Linked DNA regions of Homo sapiens. The protein of the gene in region 1 interacts with the protein of each later gene in a pairwise test. Each region holds a gene or a part of one and is shown on either strand. Other genes may lie near its edges.

Region 1 (7,026 bases):
GAGCCCCCACATTCCTAGATGAGAAAAACTAGGCTCAGAGAAGTCAAATGACTTGATCAAGTCATATCAGGCACTAAAGCCAGAACTCACACAGAGGCTTTTGATTCCAAAGCACATTCCGCTGTCACAATCAAAGCTCAGTTAAATACACATTCATTTATTAAGCACCTACTTAATAGATTGGGGGTGGGGTGGAGGGAACTGAGGGCATCCATAAGAAGACAGTTGAAAGTCAGTCTGTGGGTTGCAGATGGGGAAGGAAGAAAGTAGAAGAGGTGCCACTGAGAAGCTGCAGGAGCAGACTGGCAACCCCTCTCCCTGCTAAAGAATCCCACCCAGTGTAAGCCAATGGGTAACACCAGCATTCAGGCAACACAGTAGTGAGGGCAGAGCTGTACACAGAGAAACGACCTTACTTAAACCTGTAAACCACCTTGTGGAAAAGACAATCTGTTCATTTCCATTTTAGAGGTAAGAGAAGTGAGATCCTGAATCATTCTGAATCTCCATTATTCTTTATCTCGATTTTTATTATGCCACCTACCTCTTTCACTTTGTATTAAATTTGTATGTATTCATGGCCCATTTCTCACAACAGACTGCACATCCCTCGATTGTAAGGACCAAGTTTACTATTCGTTTTGTTCCTAGCACCCAGCATGGTATGTGGCACATGGTAGACACTTAACATATGTGGAATGAATGAATAAATGAATGAGTAAAAGAATTAGTACCTGAGCAAAAGACCATTGCTGGCCCATTACATCTCAAGGTTGGTGGACGCAGGAACCACCTAAGAGATTCTGGGATTTGTGGATTCTGAAACAGACTCAGATTGTAGGAAATTAATCCCAGGGTGAAAATTATAAAACCAGACTGAATCCTGGAATGCTAGAATATCACTTGCCCAACTCTACCACCCAAGCCAATCTAACTTGGACACACATAGACCAGTGACTAGAAATAGAGATATTACATTACTTTTCTTAGCACTATACCCAAGGAAATTTCCTTCAGTGGTCCCACTTAGAATTCATAGCTTAAAATATATCTTGCATTTATATATGTCATGTCTCACATATTAAGTTTTGAAAATAGCTACAGCATAGCATATAAAATTGCTTTTAACTTAGATCAAAATCAACAAGTTTTTGTTTGTTTTGCTTTTTTGCCTGTTTTTTAAAGATAGGGTCTCATTCTGTCACCCAGGCCGGAGTGCAGTGCTGCGATCATGGCTCACTGCAGCCTCAACCTCCCAGGCTTAAGTGATTTTCCCACCTCAGCCACCTGAGCAGCTGGGACTACAAGTGCAAATGCCACCATGCCTGGTTAATTTTTTTATTTTTATTTTTTGTAGAGATGGATTTCATCATATTGCCCAAGCTGCTCAACAAATATCTACTAAGCACCACTTATATGACTAATAACATGATAGTTGTGCTTTTGAATTCACATGAAAGTGAATTGAAATAATGTACAGATCTGAAATTCCAGGGACTTTAGATGTTTTTCCTCTTTTTAAATCCAGCTGCCTTTCTATGGGTACCAGAAGTCATGTGGATACATCATCTAAAACATCAAACTATTGTTTTCTTAGAGTTAGACAGAACCAGCTGGAGCTGATTAGGGCTTTCCCCACTCAATGGGTCAATGACTGGCCCTGGGCAAGAGTTAACCAAATTCCATGGTCAGAGCTTTCCAGGAGGAGGAGGCAGCTGACTCACAGCCGAAGGCGTGCATGCAGTGGGACATGGTCATAGTTCAAGCTCCTTTGGCTGCTCTGTTTACCCACTTGTTCTACCTCTCGGCTGCCGGTCTGCCTGCTTTCCCCCAGTCGTTGCTTCACTGGTTCCTGGAGAAAGGGGCTAGGTAAATTCTGATTGTTTGCTTTTTTCTTTAAGCTTAGAATCATCTCAACAGCTCACATTGTCTCAACAAATAAGCTTTCATTTTGCCTTTATTTTGGAAGGGTTAGTCATGAACACTGACCATAGGTCATCAGTACAGGCCAAAAAAAAAAGGAGATATTTTACAAAATCTGTTACGTCCCCTCCTGTTACTTCCCACCTTTAATTTGTGTCAAAACATTCACCATTCCATGTCATTCATTGTTGGCTGAGTGCCAGCCCAGGGTAGAGAAATAATAACTGAACAAGCTGTCCAAAGACCTAAATTCAAATTCTGACTCTTCTACTTACTGGTTGTGTGTCCCTGAGGAGATCTCCAAGCCCCTCTGCATCTTGAATTCCTTATCTGGAAAATGGCAAGAAAGCTCACCTTACTGTGTGACTGTGAAGTTGAAATGGTCAAATGCATTAGAATTACGGTGTTGCGTCTGCATGGAACTGAATGCATACTCATTCTTCTTTCTCAAACCTTAGGTCTCCTCTGGAGTTCCTGGTTTAGTTCACTGTCTTTACTTGTATATTCATGAGATAATAAACTCAGCAGGTTAATTTACTTGCCCGAAGTATTTACAATGATTCAGTAGCAGAACAAAGAGGTAATCCACTTGTAACACCCAGGTCGAGGTCTCCGTGTATCTGGTCACTCTGCTGAGGGTGGAGTGGTTAACAGAGCTGCCTGACGAGACAGGTTGGTTCCCAGGACTTCCGTTACCTCCCGAATCTGTGAATTCATGCTTGTTTTCAATCCTTTCCTGACCCTAGGTTTTGGCTCCCAGTCAGTTCCTCGTCACAGTCCCAATAAAAGGCCTGGCCGGGTACAGGGAGGCCAGGGAGCAGCACTGGCGGTACTACACACTGCAGGGCACCAGGCTGCCCTGCCCGTTGCGGGACCCTGAGGGTCTGCAGCAGTGGCTGGAGGTGGAACAGTTTATGAAGAGCCTGTGGCAGTGGCATGAGACAGATGTGAACATCGACGGAGACATTGTGCCTGCCAAGGTCCTCCTAGTGTTCCGGAAGCTGGTGGAAAATGCAGTTAGAACCTGTCACCTCTCAGGTGAGCTGATCAGGAACAAGTGCAAGGGTAATTGCTGGCATTCCCCTTTCACTCTATAAAACCTCTGTTTGGGTGTTACCTGCAGCTCACAGCCTACATTTGAGAAAATAATCATGTGCTCTTCACATTTATTTAATCTTCATAATATGAATCAGCTTTTTTTCCTGCTGTTGATGCACAGAAGATTGGAATTCATACTAACAAAATAGTCTTGTGGCTTTAAGAAAGTTACTGTGCTGGCATAGATATAAAATGCTGTGGATTATGCACCTTAACCAGGCTTAAAAACTTAAGCGTATTGTTTTTTAAAAAAGCAAATTATTCACAAACCCCAGGTCTTCTTTATTAGCACATTTCTACTGCAGCACCTCCATCTGACTGCAGTACCACAGGGTGCTGAGATTCCACATTTGGAAACCACTAACTTGTACCAAAGCACAAAATCCAGGAGCCATAAAGAACTGACTAAGTTTGACAACTCCAAAGTCTTAAGCTACTGTACAGCATATGCATACACACACACACACACACATACACACACACACACACTCCCTTTTTGTTCACACAAAGCGAAAAGGTGAATTTCAAACTGGAAAGAAATGGCTAATTTTCTTAATTTATAAATCAATAAGAAAAAAGATGAGCTGACCAATAGAGATAATTACCAAAAAAAAAAAAGGAATCACAGAAAAAGAATACAAATGGCTTGCAAAAATAAGAAAAGGCATTCCATCTAATGTATATTTCAACGTATATTAGAATATACCTAATGTTGGGTGCATTAAAATACCTAGCAAGCTAAAAGAAATGAAAAGTTTGATCATGCTTAGTGTCGAGTGGGCATGGTGAAATGGGTATTCTCATGTTGTTATTAGAAGTGTAAATTGGTGTCTCCTTTTTAAAGGGCAAGTTGTCTATATTTTATTTTTATAATGTGCTTACTTGACAATTCAACAATTCCAGTTCTAGAAATATATTTCTACAAATACACAAAGAATTGTGCACCAGGATATTCTCTGCCATAGGTTTTATAATAGTAAATAGCTAGAAGTAATCTAAATGGCTAACAAAGGAAAATTGGCTAAATTAAATTATGCTATCTCTGCCTACTGGACTACTATGCAGCCTTTAAAAAGAACAGGCATATGCCCATGCATACATACAGAGCTATGAAAAATGCATGTGCTAAATAGTTAAGTGAAAAACCAAACTGCTAAACAATATGAGATTCCATCTGTGTGAAAATAAAAGGATGTATTCATACATACATTTGTTTGTCTAGACAGAATAGTTCTGAAAATTTCCATAATGGTAATAGTTTATGTTTAATAGATTTTTTTACTAAGTAGAATAAGTTTCATGGGTTATTTAATTTAATCCTCATAACCACACAATACAGTAAGAATTCTTTTCCTACCTGTTTTAGAGATGAGGAAACTGAGACTTAGAGAGATTAAGTCACTTCTGAAGTTCACACACCTCATAAGCAGAGCCAGCTGCAGGGCAGGGTGTGGGCCGGCAGGGTGTGGGCCGGCAGGCTGGCTGCAGCATCGGCTCACCTCTTATGCTGTGCGACATTATTCATGGTGAAAGTGCAAAGCAGAGATTCAGAATGGGCAAGGTTTATGAGGCGCTTTTAGTAAATAATGCTAAAGTGCCAGTTGTCATGTTCCTGTCTGGGCAGCTCTGATGAGATGCAGACAAGCCCTTTATCCCACCCTGGCCAGGGAATGTTTCCCTTTTGAACAGCCTAACACAATTAATGTGCTTCCATTTTCTTCTCTGTGCAAGGAAATGCAAAATAATAGATTCCAATCTATTTCAAGAATTGGGATGAGCAAATAAGGATGAATAGATCCTGATCTATTCAAGACTGCTTATCTTTATCTGCAATGAAGGCAAACAAACAAAAACTGTACCTTTTGAAAGAAGAAGGAGCAAATTGGAAATGAGGAAATTATAGTATGTGAGCTGGAAAACTACTAGATGCGTTAGTTTTCTCTTCTTCTCTTTGCCTGGTTGGAAAACGAGGCAATGGAGACTTCTTTCAAATCACTCAATCCTCTGAAACAGTGGCTGTGACGTGCTTTGATGTATTTTGTGGTTACAGGGGTTTCTGATGATAGATACCTCTGAGGCTCGGCTGGCTGAATGGATGGTAAAAACAAATACCATCTAAGAGACTGAGGCTCAGATAAAAGAAAGGTGAAGCCAAATTTCACCAAAGGCATATGCATAAATAAGGAGGCTGATGCTGTCCCTAACCAGTGTCAGAATATCTAGGTGAAGAGGGAAAAAAAATGGCATTAGCCTTCCCTATGTTTGCATTACTCTGAAAACCAACATTTAGATATTTGGGTGGAATGGAGAAGGATATAGAAAAATAGTTAGGTTTCATTTTTACAGTAGCAAATACAGAAGTTCCCCAACTTGCCATGGCTCAACATATGATTTTTTTACTTTACAAGGGTGCGAAAGTGATACATGTTTAGTAGAACCCATACTTCGAGTACCCATACAACCATTCAATGAATTCCATGAGATATTCAACACTTTATTATAAAATAGGCTTTGTGTTAGATGATTTTGCCCAACTGTAAGTTAATGTAAGTGTTCTGAGCACTTTTAAGGTAGGGTAGGCTAAGCTATGATGTTTGGTAGGTTCGGTGTATTAATACATTTTCAACTTAGAATATTTTCAGCTTCATCAGGATGTGACCTCATCGTAAGTCAAGGAGCATCTATACTACACTTTTTCTTTTTATTCTATGGCTTTTACTTTCAGTTGATCCTCCTGAAAAGAATCTATTAATTTAAAAGAAAAGGTACCCCAAATGCCTTGGGGTTGGGGGAGAAAGAAAAACTCACCAGCAATGAGACTTCTTAGTAATGTTCCGATGCTGGCTAGCTGACTAACCATCTGGTTTTGATGTCAAAACCTTGACGTGCTACAGGCATTGTGATCCTTCACGTGCTACAGACATTGTGAAAGTTGCCACACCAGTTGCAAGGTGCTGGTCAGAGCAACTGCTCACAAATTTCTTGTTTGAACGCTTGTAATGTGCAAACCTTTCTCTTCTCCTTATCCATTTGGTCATTTCCCACCAGGTAAGGTCAGCCTGCTAGGAAACCGCTCTGCAGTTTGGGTTGCTGTGGAAACATCTGCATATCAGGTGGAACTGGAGCTGGTCCCCGCAGTGGAGATCCCCACCACCTGGTCCAAGAAAGCCCGGTGGCCTCGATGTCTGCAGCGCTGGCCTTCCCAAGAGAGAGTGGAGTGCATCAAGGTATCAGTGGGCGGGACCCAGCTTGCCAGAGCAGTGATGCCAACAGCTTAACCAGTCACAGCATTACTGACTGCCAATGAGTTTCCGAAGGAAAGTTGAGGTGTTACTAGATCAGCAGTTCTCAAAGTGTGGGCCCTGCAGCAGCGTCACCTGAGAACTTGTTAGAAATGCAGCTTCCCGAGCCCCCACTCTGGACCTGCTGAATGAGACCCTGTGAACAGGGCCCAGCAATCTGTGTTTTAAGAAGCCCTCTGGGTGATGTGATTCTGATGTATGCTCAAGTTGGAGAACTGCTGTAGGAGAGGAAGTGGGCACCATCTTCTAACTGTCCACATCCAAGGTGGCTTGTGGTCTCCCTGGCACCCCCTTCTCATCCCCACGTAGGATGTGCTGTCTGCCTGGTGACAAGTTCCCCAGACCAGCAGACTGCTTCAGAAATGGCTTTCTACACCAGTGAGCATTGTTCTTCTTATTTCCCAATATTTTTCTCTTTCTTCCAGTCGTTTGGATTTAACTTGTTGGCCTGTTCAAATTATCACTGGCAGCTGAGCTTCCTCCGTGCTGAGCAGGTGTTACTGGAACAGCTGGATGAAGATGGGGGCTGCCGTAGGAAGTGTTTTCAGGTCATGAGGCACCTGAAGGAGGACATCTGGTGCCCAGGGAACAGGCCGGTTATCACGTCCCACCATCTGCAGGTGAGTGTGGGGCAGGTTGGAGAAGACCCAGGGGCAGCTTTGGATAGGTCATTCTTCCTGTGGCCTCTGTAGGGCCTGGCCAG
Region 2 (7,659 bases), on another chromosome or scaffold:
TTATCTCCCTAGCCCTTGGAGCCATTTGAGTTTGCTTTACACAGTAGTAGTTCTACAGCCAGATCTGTTTCTCAAGCTTCAGATAGGCTTCTGCAGTGCTCACTATTTACTGAACACCTCAAATTCAATATAATTAACAATATCGAAACTAAAGCATCCCTTCCTCCTCATGCAACATACTCTTCTCCAATAGTCCCTATCTTCCTCATCCAAGCTAGAAACCTATTCATCACTTTGACTTTTCTTTCCCTCTCTAATATACTACAGTATACAATTTTATTCACAATAAAACTACGGTGTGTCTAGGAAATAACCTAAGAAAGAATACCCAAGACCTTTCCCGAAACAAGTGTTAAAATTGTACTAAAGTCCAAGAAAAATATTAAGCAAAAATGTATGTGAATTGACTATCTAAATAAAGTTTTATGTTAATTCCCCTAAATAAATCTATACATTCAATGTAATCTTAATAAAAATCCCATTGGATTGTTTGAGGAACTCAACGAACTCATTCTAAAATTTATATGGAAAAATAGAGGTTTATGAATAAGCTGATTTTGAAAAAGAAAAACAAAATAGGGCCTTGCCCTACCAGTTAAGGCATACTAAAGAACCTAAGTGATAAAAACAGAGTGGCTCTGGCATGGGAGCAGACTAATAGACAAGTGGAAAAGAATGGCGAGCTCAGAACTAGGCCCATATATAAAGATGGGAACCTGATGGAAGATGATGGTGGTACTACAAAGCAATGCAAAGGGGATGGTCTTGAGAAAACTAGGTCATGTCTGAATACCCCCAGCTGGAATAGAGAACAAATGTGAAAGTTCAAATTATAAGATCAATAGAAGAAAATATGACTTGGGGTAAGGAAAGTCTTCATGAAACCCTACACTGTAAAGCCAAATAAAATTTTAAAAAGTAAAATAAAATAAAGACTGATTTCATGACATACAAATTAAGAACTCCTGGCTAACAAAGAACACTGGACAAAGCTAACAAATATATGACAAACTGGGAGAAGATATCTGTAATATCTAAAACTGATAAAGAAGGAATACCTTGTTTATATAAAGAACTGCAAAATAACAAGAAAGAAATGGGCAAAAAGATATGGATAGGCAATTCACAGAAAGGAAAGGACATATAGCCATTTCAACATATATACATTTCAACAAATGTATGAGATTCTCTAGTAATCAGAGGAGTATCAATTAAAACAGCAAGGAAATAGCTCATTATATTCATAATGGCAAAAAGTACAAAAAATGGTTCATATCATTTATTGGAGAGGATGTGGGAAAAAAACATTACAAAACAAAATCAAATCGTGAAGGGTGTCAAGTAGAATGCTTTTTTAGGGCAGCGCCTCTGCCCACTATGCTAAGTACCTCTTAGATCTGAAAACTAGGTGTGGCAAAGACTGCTATTTACATACTCAACATGAATTTTGCCCTTCTTCCTTACTTGTAGAACCCCTATATTATTAGGAGAATAATGCGTCTAGCTTAGAAAAACACACATATACACATAATTCCCAGCCCCACTTGCAGCAAGGGGTGGCTATTGATAGGTAGACAGGAACCATTGAGTGGGGCTTTGGGAAAGTCCTTTCATCCCTTGCCATCTTGCACCATGGATCGACCTGGAGGCTCTGGAAACATGCTCCGAGAATAGCAGAGCAGAAAGACATACCGAGCCTGGGTCCCTGAAGAACTGTGGAGTCACTGGCCATGGACTGCCCCTCTCTAGGCTTCTGTAATGTAACAGGATAACACCCTAATTTGTTTAATAAGCCACTATAGACCACCTCTGATACTAGCACCTTAATGCAATTCCTGATATTCAAGGCTTTTTCTAAAAAAATGTCATTCTTTTCTAATGGTCAGAGGTAGGATACAGACTGGTATTACAAGGTAAAGATAACTTAGCCTTGAACAGATTAAGACAAATAAGAGGAGCACTGCTTCAAGTAGCAGTCAATAAGCTTATTTATTTTTTCTCCAGTTAATTACTAAAAACTGAAATATCATCTTAAAGATACCTTTCAAATGGTATTTATGGAATTTCTTATCCCCTAAAGAAAATAGGTGGAGAAAGTAGAAAATAGCATCTTTTTAAAAGGACTTCAATATGTTCATTAATGGAGTCATAATGCATCAAGGGAAGTCAGAAATTTTTTGCAATACATCTTTTTTTTTGCATCACAGGGGACATACCATGTCTTCTCACTAAACTTCCTTTGATGGCTTAAGGTTACTCTTGACATGACAATAAGGTAGAATCTCTATGTTTCCAGATACAGTGCCTTGTGAAGAACTCTTCAGGCCTAAGGAGGAATGTGTACAGGCCCTAGAGAGGGCAGGTCTCTGCTGGAAAGCTCACTGTTTATGAATAATCTAGTGGGCAGTGCACAAGACAAAAATACATACAGAGCCATATTTTAAAATTTAGATTTTATTATTATTTATGTATGGTGAGGCCAACAGATCAGGAGATGGTCTGCTATCAAAAAGACAGTTTATTATTCACCCAGCCCAAGAGGAGGATGCACACCAAGCCACACAAGGCAATGTGGAGAAGCACCAAGGTCCAAAGGAGGCAGAAGGAGTGGGAGGAAACATGGCAAAAAACATTATGTGATTTTTGCAGGAAGGAATGGACAAATCAGGATAAGCAGGTTTAGTTTGCATAATTTCAGTGGGATCTGAGATGTAGGAGTTGTTCCTAGTTGTCTGGTACTTTGCCCTGGAGTGATTAGGGCAGGGGAATATTGGCATGGAGTGTAACAGCCTGATAAAGAAGGTAGATGATCAGTGTGTGGCATGCTGGGTGAGTTGTTTGCTATGTCTAGGAATTAGCTAACCCTTGGAGGGGTTATCTCCCTGGTCAGGGAGACCCCAGATGCCAGAGCATCAAGAATACAAAAAATAAGAAAATATAGTTAATGGAAGTGGCCACTGATCTAAGACACCAAACAGGATTCTCTTGTTCAGCTGTGTTCAGCATTTACGGATACTGCTCTGCGACAGGCACTGTGCTGGGCCCTGAGAGAGGAGCATCTGCATGACACAGCTGCTGACCTCCACAAATCTCAGGCCCAGGACTCTGAGCTCATGATCTAATTCTAAATGACTTTGGCAAAGGAAGGAAGTGTGTTCCAAAGAAGGCCACATCAGTTTAAATATTGGCAAACCAATGCCAGGGTCATGCAGACAAAAGACCAAATAAATGCACCAAACCAGAGCATTTTTCTCCCCTTTTCCACAGAATATTGTCTCTCTCTTATTTTCCCACCAGGGATGCTCCTTTTTGCGACTCAGACCTAATGTACTTGCTCTATTTTCCCGGGGGGTCTAAACTCAGGAACCAGAAGAATGACTAAATGAGAAATAAAAGTAAAATTCTGAGCCCCTGAACTGACTGAATAGACCCATTGTTCACTACATAGAAAGCCAGTCATTGAGACAAGGAGTATTGCCAGGGAAGAAGGTTCTATTTGGGTGCTGCAGCCAAGGAGAATAGGAAATCAGTCTCAAATCCATCTCCTCAACCAACTAAAATTAGAGGTTTATATGGCAAGGGAGAAATGTGACTACATGTGAGAAAACAGGAATTAGTGAGCGGTAAGGATGAGGACTTGTTCAACAGGCAGCAGGTGGCTGGTTAGGCAATCATGATGGGTGAGGGGTATGGTGCCTCATTGTCCAGATGCAGTGATCTGGTAAGTTTCAATTCCTTGATACTATCTGGGAGGCCTCATGGTTGGTTTCCCAAGAAAGGAACTCAGATAAGAAAGATGTAACTTTCTGAAGTTTTAAGACTGGGAGGGTAAATTTCCAGGTTTATTCAAAAGAAACCATAAACATCAGTTCTATAGGACAGTTGGGCTGATTTCACACCAACCAGCATTCCTTCCTGATAAGAGACCACCAACCACAGAGAAGTTCTGGCCAATCTACCAGGGACTCACAGCGAGGGTTTTCATGTCCTCTGCTTTGCCATTTGACATCAGAGGGCTGAAAACTTCACACTGGGATCATGCTAACACCACCATTTTTTGAATATGGGTCCCATAGAGAGGCAGGAAGCTTAATTGTGCATGTGCATATTTCTCCTTTCATAAATATTCATGAATCCTCCTACAGCTCATTGAATATATTTGGCCACCCTGCTCAGCATAAATTTCTGTTCCCTTTGTCCTTCCTTCCAAGTGTCTGTTCTCAGCTTCTGACCAGAGGCTATGCTTCCAAGCCTGTCAGAAAGGCCACCCTGCAGGCTGTAACCCTTCATGAGAAATAAAGCCCTTTTCTAAATTTATTAACCTCCTCATTCTTCAGTTGACATAAGTAGAGCATCATAGTCCCCACAAATCATTTCTGGGATACTCTGTTCTTATTTGTAAAACAAGGAGATAGGAAATGCATGCTATACTAAAAGTTTGTTCAAAGAACATCCGCACGTGCAAATGTCTGAGACCAGAGGCTGCAAGCCTCCCTGTCGCTCTTAGGGCTTCGGTAGCCACATTGCCACAGCTCTCCACGCCCTCAGGTAACGCCCCTCCGCAGGCCGAGACGTCGGCACGTACACTGTCAGGTCTTCCCGCTTTCCGTCGCTTCCTGTTCCGTCTTGGTCCCGCCTGCCGCTGGCGCCGTTGTTTCCGGCTCAACTGGGGAGCTGCTGGAGCTCTTCTGGCCTCTGGTTTTCCGACTGCTTATCCGACGCTCCTCCCTCTGTCTCTGTAGCTGGAGAAGGTAGTTTCCAGGAAAGTTTTCCGGTTTGCAGGCCGCGCACATCGGGCAGGGGCCATCCTCGGTCCCCTTGCTCGTTGCTCGCAGCCCCGTTCGGCTACAAGTGAGTTTCAGGGCGTCATGGCCAGGGGCCACCGCGGCCAGCCGGGTGTGAGGCTGCCTTTCGCTGCCCGCGCGCTCCAGTGGTCTCTGGGTCCGCCGGCGTCCGTTTCGGCCTGAACGCAGCCCCTCCGCGGCGACGAGCAGTCTCGCGCCGGAGCTCATGGCCTCGGAGGCGCCGTCCCCGCCGCGGTCGCCGCCGCCGCCCACCTCCCCCGAGCCTGAGCTGGCCCAGCTAAGGCGGAAGGTGGAGAAGTTGGAACGTGAACTGCGGAGCTGCAAGCGGCAGGTGCGGGAGATCGAGAAGCTGCTGCATCACACAGAACGGCTGTACCAGAACGCAGAAAGCAACAACCAGGAGCTCCGCACGCAGGTGCGCGGTCCTCCTCAGCCCCGCGCCCCATCCAGCCCAGGCGAGGCCTTCGAAGCCCGTGATAGCCTCGGAAGGGGTCCCTGGCAGGGGCTCAGAACTACTGTAGAGTACTTAAAGTAAATAAGTAGAAGCTCAGCGCAGTTACAATTCCAAGTACCTTAGGAGCAAACCTGAGTTCAGGTTACTTGATTTAAATCAATGTCTCGCGGCTGGCGTGAATTGAACTTAAGTACTGTGGCTACATTGTCTTCATTCTCACTTGACCTAACATCCCATTGGCAGTAGGCGCATTTACTGTAGATCACATTTGAGTTTATTAAAATGCTGGACTTGAGTCAGAATCCCATCTCTGCTATTCACTGGGTGTGTGAACTTATATACCGAGTCTCAGTTCCCCATTAAATGAGAATGATAGCTCACAGTAGTAAAGGTGAAGTAAAACAAACAATTTTACAAACTTTTGAATGCTATACCTGTTTAAGGTTGCTCTTCTGGGCGTTTATCATCTTCGGCTTTCTTGTGTAAGTAGGGACGATATATAACTGCTTTTGTTGGAGACGTTAAGCAGCTTATTTCGTTTCCAAGATGGTAGGGGCAAATGTTAATACTTAAACTGTCACATTAAAAACAACCTTGGCTGGACGCGGTAGCTCACGCCTGTAATCCCAGCACTTTGGGAGGCCGAGGCGGGCAGATCACCAGGTCAGGAGTTCGAGAGCAGTCTGGCCAGCATGGTGAAATACAAAATTTAGCCGGGCGTCTCTACTAAATACAAAAATTAGCCGGGCGTGGCGGCGGGCACCTGGAATCGCAGCTAGTCGGGAGGCTGAGGCAGGAGAATTGCTTGAACCTAGGTGGTGGAGGTTGCAGTGAGCCGAGATCGTGCCACTGCACTCCAGCCAGGGCGACAGAGTGCAACTCTGTCTCAAAATAAAAACCAAAAAACCAAGAGCATAGTATTTTTTTCTACCTTGTTGGCAGGCCCTCTCTGCCAACAGATTATTTCCACATAGTAACTAGTTTCAATTTGACCGTTGTCTAGTCCTTCATAATTTATTGGTGGTTTCCTAAAACCAGTATATAGGCTGAACACTGAAACGTCATCAGACTTCTTTGTTTTGTTACCAAATGGACTATGAAAATAACTGTTGAGTTGCAATGACTTTGTATGACCATTACATGGAGTTCCTGACATGACATTATTGGAAAGTTTTTGTTTAGTCAATTTAAACACCTACGGTGTGTAATAACTATGCTAGGAAAATACAAATATGGTAAAAAAAAAAAAAAAAAAAAAACAGGGAGAGGTGGCTGGGCGCGGTGGCTCACGCCTGTAATCCTAGCACTTTGGGAGGCCGAGGCGGGCGAATCACGAGGTCAGAAGATCGAGACCATCCTGGCTAACACAGTAAAACCCTGTCTCTAGTAAAAATACAAAAAAAATTAGCCGAGCGTGGTGGCGGGCGCCTGTAGTCCCAGCTACAGGCTGAGGCAGGAGAATGGCGTGAACCCGGGAGGCGGAGCTTGCAGTGAGCCGAGATTGCGCCACTGCACTCCAGCCTGGGCGACAAAGCAAGACTCCGTCTCAAAAAAAAAAAAAAAAAAAAAAATGGGGAGACGGGAGCAAAATATAACAGCCTTTTTTACATGACAGCCTTTTGAAAAGCTCCTTTATAATTCTAAATTGTTGAAGTACTGCTTGCGTTAGAGATTCTAAAAGAAAACGTTTTTTGCTAATCTTCAGAGAGCCAGCATTTTGGTGTTACTGTTAATTTGATAAATCAGACTAAATGATGGGACTTTGTGAACAGATCCTTTATTTCTTACAGAAAAGAATGTTTTTATGCTAATATTTTGAGAGGTCAGCAATTCTCCCTAAAGAATTAGAAAATTTAAGAGCTATCAATTCCCATTCATGTTATCTAATATCATTCAATGTTCACGTGGATTTAGTTATTAAATGTTAATGCCTCTTATAAGCTTTAATACACTTTAAAAAAATAGTAGTTCTGTGACTAAACTGCAGCAGAAGCGAACAGAAGGTAATTGCCTGAGAGGATCATCTGTCCTCCACATGCCTCCATTTTAGTCCAATATTAAAAATTTAATCTCATAGAAAGTCTTGACTCTACTTTGAATAGTGATAACTCCTTACTCTCCTAGTCAGCCTCCCTTGGTTGGGGAGAGGGTGGATTCGATTAACTGTCATTCCAAATTACTGAATGTGTTTTATTTGGAGCAGTTAAAAAGTTTTGCTTGAGAATGATAACTGGAGAACCATAATATGTATAGGGTTTGTACAAGACCCCAAAATAGCCTTGTGCAAATTACTTTGTCTTGTCTGATATTTTATGTGTAAAATTGGGGTTAGGACAACGAATATTTCAGGTGGTTTTGTGAATTAATGAGATGTTATCTAAAGCATCAAGTATAGTGCCC
Region 3 (7,708 bases), on another chromosome or scaffold:
AGGACTCGTTTAGGATATAAACCTTGAGAGTTGATATAAGGTTGAAAGAGGAGATGATAGTACATTGCTGTCCTTTCTAGCTGGACCCAAACTCTTCTTTATGACAACTACTGAAAGTAAACAAAACATTCACCTAATTAATATTATATATCAGGTTGCCAGGGATGTCACGGTTGCTGACGCAACAAAACCACCTGCAGTACAGCAGCTGCAGTTGGAACAACAATTTGATTAAGTTTATGGTCCGATCTCGGCTCACTGCAACCTCCACCTCCCAGGTTCAAGCAGTTCTCTTGCCTCAGCCTCCTGTGTAGCTGGGACTATAGGCATGCACTGTTACACCTGGCTAATTGTTTGCATTTCTTAGCAGAGACAGGGTTTCACCATGTTGGCCAGGCTAGTCTCAAACTCCTGACCTCGAGTGATCTGCCCACCTCAGACTCCCAAAGTGCTGGGATTACAAGCGTGAGCCACCGCGCCAGGCCCCGGCTATTTTTTGTATTTTTGGTAGAGATGTGGTTTTGCCATGTTGGCCAGCCTTGCCTGGAACTCCTGACCTCAAGCGATCCACCCACTTCTGCCTCCCAAATCCTGGGATTACAGGCGTGAGCCACTGTGTCTGGCGAAAACTTCACTTTTAAGTGAAACACAGAAACAAAATCAGATAATCAGAAAATGAGATACTGCATGTTCTCATTCATATGTGGGAGCTAAACAATGGGTACACATGAACATAAAGGTAGAAACCATTGACTCTGAGGACTCCAAAAGGGAAGTGGAGGGGAGGGAGGGAGCGGGTTGGAGGGTTGAAAAACTACCTATTGGATGCTCTCTTCACTATTTGGGTGATGGGTTCACTAGAAGCCCAAACCCCAGCATTATGCAATTATACCCAAGTGAGAAAACTGTACGTGTACCCTTCTGGTATTTATAATTTTAAAAAGGTTAAAAAAGAAAGCTTCAGTTTTAAATCTTAACCAGATATACATGAAAAGGATTACTACACTTTGACACCTTTACAAGTTTCTATGTTAGTTTTTAGTATTAAAGGTGAAACCTATTCCTTGACCACTTTATTAATTGTATATCCTCTTTGAACAAACATCCAAAATACAAGACTGTCACTTTTCGTTCTGTAACTGTGATTCTTCACTGCAGTCTTCTATAGATTTTACAGAGTTAATGGTCCCTAATATCTGCCATTCTCCAACTGTCCTGGGTGGCGAAATGGCTGCCATAGTAAACTTGTCACTGATAAATAGAGTTTCTGGAAACATGCAGGGCTTGTTATTTAAGAGTGACTCCATTTGGGCATTCTGGTGGATGGCCTACAGGTTTTCTTGCAGAGTATACTAGAGTCTCCAGAATGAATAACCCTAGGAACTTGAGGAACTAGCGCTTTCCAGAATTTTGGAAGCCAAGATACAAATATTGGTTTTCTCAAAAGCAATGCAAGTGGGAAGGAAAATCCATATCTAGACTAAATGTCTGTTGAGGTAAGAAGAAAGCACTTCTCTTTTTACAATAGAAGTGATCTATTGTAATCCACATACCAACTAGTGGCTGGCAGATCATTTTGGAGTCTGGTGCTAAATTGGGGGCTTAGTGTTGGTCTCCATTCCTGGAAGATTGTTCACTCAGCAATGACTGTAGCCAGGTTTGCCATGGTGAGTGGAAGTCCATGCTACTGCGCATAATCTCCATCCTTGACAGTTTGACCACTTTGTTGAGCCCATAAGATTGTGACACAAGTGTTGGGGAAAGAGGCTAATTAATATGTAGATAATAAGTACCTTATCCATCTGATTATTAAATTCTGCTCTGCTGAGGATACCCTTTGCTGAGAACTCTCATGAGACCCCAATATCTTCACATTGTATGTCCACTTGGAAAGGTCTGTCCACATATTTGTTTTTTTTTCTCAGACGTCCTTGACAGAAATTTTTAATCATGTGTCCTCAATGTCCCTGACAATTCAGCGAATGAGTGGGACACAGCCTATGCATGGTACATACTTACACGTCTGGATATGCCTCCTCCAAGAAGGTGCACTGCTCAAAGTTCTTCCCTCTGGGAGGATTTCCCTTCATCACTGTCCTTCAGGGCTGTCCCAGTCAGGACTGTCACATGCAGCTGTCCACTTGTGGCTTGTGTGGTAGGCAGGATTCTAATTAAGCCCCAACAAGATTCCAGTCTCATGGTTATTCAATCAAATACTCATATGAGTACTGCTGTGGTGGGATTTTTTTAATGCAAAAATGAGTATTTCATTTTGATAACACTAGAAGAAACAAACAAAACAACTGTGTTCCTACATCGAAGTGAAAACAATGTTTAAGCTTTCCTATCAATCAAATATATTCCAAAAGAAAATGTGTTCTGTAAAGGTTCTGAAACACAGGCAAATATTAATACAATAGGCTAGGAAGCTATAATACTGAAAATGACTCTCTTCTGACAGGGTACTTAACAAACATAATTTTTAATTTTAATTTTAATTTATTTATTTTAAGACGGAGTCTCCCTTTGTCGCCCAGGCTGGAGTGCAGTGGCTCGATCTCTGCTCACTGAAGCTTGTGCCTCCCAGGTTCAAGTGATTCTCCTGCCTCTGCCTCCCGAGTAGCTGGGATTGCAGGTGCCCACCACCATGCCTGGCTATATTTTTAATTTTTTTTTTACAAACATAACTTTTGAATTACAAAACCAGTGAAGTAATCCCTTCCAAATAATTGTGTCAAGAGTGAAACTGCTTGTTCCATTAAAACTCCAAAACTTTCGCTGTAATATTTTTTGCCACTATGAACAATTCAAGTAAATTTTGCTGCACTTAAAATAAGTTATGAAAGTGGAAAAATGGGCGGGGCGTGGTGGCTCACACCTGTAATCCCAGCACTTTTGGAGGCCAAGGAAGATGAATCACTTGAAGTCAGGAGTTTGAGACCAGCCTGGCCGATGTGGTGAAACACTGTCTCTACTAAAAATACAAAAATTAGCCGGGCATGGTGGTGCATGCCTGTAATCCCAACTTCTGGGGAGGCTGAGGCAGGAGAATCACTTGAACCTGGGAGGCGGAGGTTGCAGTGAGCCGAGATTATGGCACTGCACTCCAGCCTAGGTGACAGAGCCAGACTCTGTCTCAAAAAAAATAAAAAAGGTGGAAAAATATACAAAGTTCCAGATTAAAATGATTAATAGATGCAATATAATAAGGTTTCCCCTCCTTTCTTTTTTTCTTTCTTTTTTTTTTTTTTTTTTTTTTTTTAGACAGTCTCACTTTGTCACCCAGGCTATGCGATCAAAGCTCAATGCAGCCTCAAACTCCTAGTCTCAAGCCTCCTGGTCTCAAGCCTCCCAAGTAGCTGGGACCACAAGTACACTTTCAGCTAATTTTTGTATCTTGTGTACAGACGGGGTTTCACCATGCTGCCCAGGCCACTCTTGAACTCTTGGGCTCAAGGAATCTACCCACCTTGGCCTCCCAAAGTGCTGGGGTACAGGCATGAGCCACCACACTGTGGCCCTCATTTTTCTTATCAATTAACAACTGTTACCTTTAACAGATAGAGGTTGAATTTATATTTATTTATTTATTTATTTATATTTTTAGACAGAGTCTCGCTCTGTTACCCAGGCTGGAGTGCAGTGGTGTGATCTCAGCTCACTGCAACCTCACTTCCCCAGTTCAAGTGATTCTCCTGCCTCAGCCTCCCAAGTAGCTGTTGGGACTACAGGTGCGCGCCCCACGCCCGGTTAATTTTCTGTATTTTTAGTTGAGACGAGATTCACCATGTTGGCCAGGCTGGTCCCGAACTCCTGACCTCAGGTGGTCCAGCTGCTTTGGCCTCCCAAAGTGCTGAGATTACAGGCGCGAGCCACAGCGCCCGTTGGGGTTGACTTTAAAACACAACCCCATCCAATGAAGATTTCAGTTTGTTGATGTTGTCGTTTCTTTCTTTCTTTCTTCTTTCTTTCTTTCTTTTCTTTTCTTTTCTTTTTTTCTTTCTTTCTTTCTTTCTTTCTTTCTTTCTTTCTTTTCTTTCTCCTTCCTTCCTTCCTCTCTCTCTCTCTCTCTTTCTTTCTTTCTTTCTTTCTTTCTTCTTTCCTTTTTTTTTTTTGAGATAGAGTCTCCTCTATGGCCAGGCTGGAGTACGGTGGTGCGTTCTCGGCTCTCTGCTACCTCTGCCTCCTGGGTTCCAGCGATCCTCCCACCTCAACTTCCCGAGTAGTTGGGACCACAGGCGCCCGCCACCATGCCCAGCTAATTTTTGTGTGTGTTTTTTTTTTTTTTGGTTGGTTGGTTGCTCTGTAGAGCCGGGGTCTCACTATGTTACCCAGGCGATTTCATCCCACTGTGTGAGAAGGTTCTGCGTTCCTCTGCTTATGTTGCTGTGCAGTTGTTACTGAAGGTCGCCTGTAGAGGGCGCCAGTCAGCGAAGGGGAGGGCTGCGCTTCCTGGTTCTCTGGGGCACGAGGCTTCACCTCAGGATTCTGGCGCCCCCAACAGGTTCCCAGTGTTCGGCTGGGCCAGCACACTGTGGCTGGCTGCTTCCCTTCCTTCCATCCCCTTTGGACCAAACGGGATCGGTGCTTCTGGTGAGACGCCTCCCCATGCACATCACTCCCAGGTGCCCTAGGGGGCACATTTCCCACAACTCCCAGAGGGCAGGTTTCTAGAAAGTGCCACCAGTGGGGAGGCGCCACAACTTCACTGCCATTTTGTGAGGTGCTGCTGTCTCTCCTCCAGCAAGGTCAGGACTTAAGGACTGTGAGTGGGGCAGTTTTTCCCTGGATGCTTTAATTTCACCCCAGAAAGTGTCCTTTTTCCTCAGAAAGAGTCTTTTCTGTGGTGTTCTCTGTCTGGTGTGTGGTAGGGCTCCCTTGGGGAAGTGGCTCAGCTCTGGGGACACCGCCATGGGCGCCTGTGTCAGCCGCGGGGGAGCGTTTTCCTTGGGCACCTCGTCTCAGCCATGTTGTGAGGCCGGGGGGCTTTTCTTGGGGGCTCTGTCTCGGTGATGCTAGGGACTTTTCCTACTGAAATGACCTGAGCCCGGGGGTGGGGGCCATGCCTTGGTTGCTTGTGTCGGCCTCGGGTGCGGTGCTGTTTCTTTCCCACTCAGTCGCAGTCCTGAGCGGGGGCTCTGCCTTGGGGACTCTATCTGTTCTCATGGAACATGGTGGGGGTGGCTGTGTCCCAGACGCATGATCGCCGCCCTGTGGGATCGCTGACGGGGGCTTTATCTCAACCTGCGAGGGACTCTTCCTTGGGTGCTGATGTCGTCCGTGAGGCACATTTGCCCTTGGATGTCGCTCACTCTCAGCTAGGATGTGTTGGCTTTTCTTTGGTTCTGCTTATCCGCGATGTGGACGCTTACCGGATGCTTTGTCTTGGTGGTGGGTGCTCTCTCCCGGTGCTGCGGGGGAATGGGGTGCTGTTCCTTGGATTCTCTAAGCCTATGGTGGGACTCAGGGAGCTCTGTGTCAGCCATGAGGGAGGCCACGTGACCTTGGGAACTCTGTCTCTACCCAGGTTGGGGTGCTTTTCCTCGGTGGGTTGATCTCAATTCTGAAGGAACTCTTCACCGGGACTCTATCTGACCTTTCGGCCACAGCCTCAGGTGTCTGTGTGGGAATGGAAGTCCAGAAATATTCGAAGGTTCCAGCTGTGCCACATTCGAACACTCGCTGTACAGTTAGTCTTTCATTCCAGCCACTCCGATGGGTGTGCAGTGATCTCTCCTTATGTCTACACTCGCATTTCTCTGCCGATTAATGAGATTGAGCACCTTTTTAAAAAAATTGTTTTTATTTATTGATTTTTGTTTGTCTTTTGAGATGAGGTCTCCCTCTGTCACCCAGACTGGATTGCAGTGCCACCACACCCAGCTATTTATTGTTTTTTTTTTTTTTTGAGCACCATTTTATGTGTTTATTGGTCATTTAACTATGTCTTTCATGAAGTTCCTTTTCAGGTATTTTCCTCCAGCTTTTACTGAGATGTTTGTATTTTAAAAATGGATTTGTAGTTTCCATATATTCTGTATTTGAGTTATATACACATGCACGCAGGCATATATGTACATATATAAAAATACGTATACAATTTTAGTATCTTCTATAAATCTTTTTTGCTTTTACACGATCTCAATAATGTATTTTAGATGAACAGATTCTCTTAATTTTATTAGTCAGTGTATTATTTATGGGTAGTGCTTTTTATTATTTAAGAAACATCTTTGAATCACCCAATGCCATTACTATTATATATATATAATACTTATATATATATAATACTTATATATATAATACTTATATATATATAATACTTATATATATATAATACTTATATATATAATACTTATATATACAATACTTATATATAATACTTATATATTATATATATATAATACTTACATATAATACTTATATATATAATACTTATATATAATACTTATATATATAATACTTATATATAATACTTATATATATAATACTTATATATAATACTTATATATATAATACTTATATATAATACTTATATATAATACTTATATGTATATAATACTTATATATATAATACTTATAGGTATATAATACTTATATATAATACTTATATGTATATAATACTTATATATATAATACTTATAGGTATATAATACTTATATATAATACTTATATGTATATAATACTTATATATATAATACTTATATGTATATAATACTTATATATATAATACTTATATGTATATAATACTTATATATATAATACTTATATATATAAAATACTTTAAGTTCTGGGATACATGTGCAGAACGTGCAGGTTTGTTACATAGGTAGACACATGCCATGGTGGTTTGCTGCACCCATCAACCCATCATCTACATTAGGTATTTCTCTAATGCTATCCCTCCCCAGCCCCCCTCCCCCAACAGATCCCACTGTGTGATGTTCTCCTCCCTGTGTCCATGTGTTCTCATTGTTCAACTCCCACTTATGAGTGAGAACATGTGGTGTTTGGTTTTCTGTTCCTGTGTTATCTTGCTGACACATGTCCCTTCAAACGACATGAACTCATTCTTTTTTAGGGCTGCAAAGTATTCCATGGTGTATATGTGCCACATTTTCTTTATCCAGTCTATCATTGATGGGCATTTGGGTTGATTCCAAGTCTTTGCTGTTATGAATAGTGCCGTGATAAACATACGTGTGCATGTGTCTTTATAGAAGAATGATTTATAATCCTTTAGGTATATACCCAGTGATGGGATTGCTGAGTCAGATGGTATTTCTGGTTCTAGATCCTTGAGGAATCGCCACACTGTCTTCCACAATGGTTGAACTAATTTGCACTCATGATGATAATATTCTAAGTTTTCTTCTAGATCTCCCAATCATCAGAAATAAATTCTCATGGAATGGAGTAAAGTCAGAGTCCAGATATATTTGATGTGATTATTAGCCATTAGAGTATGACTCTTATGAAGTGCATATTCAGCTTTTCCCCCCAAATTTTAGTGGGATGTTTGTTTTTTAGAAATTCATTTGTAGTTCTGGATATATTCTGGATTCCATTCATTTGTTGCCAGATAAATATGTATATATGTGTGTAAGTAATATATATTTTATATATAACCTATACTATATACTACATAATGTATAATCTACAAACATGATTTGGTTTTTCACCTCTTAATAGTGTCTTTGAGGAACAG

What was found.
Region 2: the proteins of MAB21L3 (region 1) and AGGF1 interact in binary tests that used the Homo sapiens proteins (3 or more experiments, as listed by UniProt).
Region 3: the proteins of MAB21L3 (region 1) and CT45A1 interact in binary tests that used the Homo sapiens proteins (3 or more experiments, as listed by UniProt).

What each region holds. Positions count from the first base shown.
Region 1 is NC_000001.11:116,121,397-116,128,422, forward strand, and holds part of MAB21L3 (protein mab-21-like 3), read left to right. Parts: intron 1-734; exon of another isoform or gene 735-819; intron 820-2,198; exon of another isoform or gene 2,199-2,669; coding exon 2,670-2,961; intron 2,962-6,069; coding exon 6,070-6,248; intron 6,249-6,748; coding exon 6,749-6,943; intron 6,944-7,026.
Region 2 is NC_000005.10:77,025,757-77,033,415, forward strand, and holds the start of AGGF1 (angiogenic factor with G patch and FHA domains 1), read left to right. Parts: upstream 1-4,647; 5' UTR 4,648-5,010; coding exon 5,011-5,220; intron 5,221-7,659. UniProt on the Homo sapiens protein: Promotes angiogenesis and the proliferation of endothelial cells. Able to bind to endothelial cells and promote cell proliferation, suggesting that it may act in an autocrine fashion.
Region 3 is NC_000023.11:135,708,943-135,716,650, forward strand, and holds the start of CT45A1 (cancer/testis antigen family 45 member A1), read left to right. Parts: upstream 1-4,696; 5' UTR 4,697-4,748; exon of another isoform or gene 4,749-4,765; intron 4,766-7,708.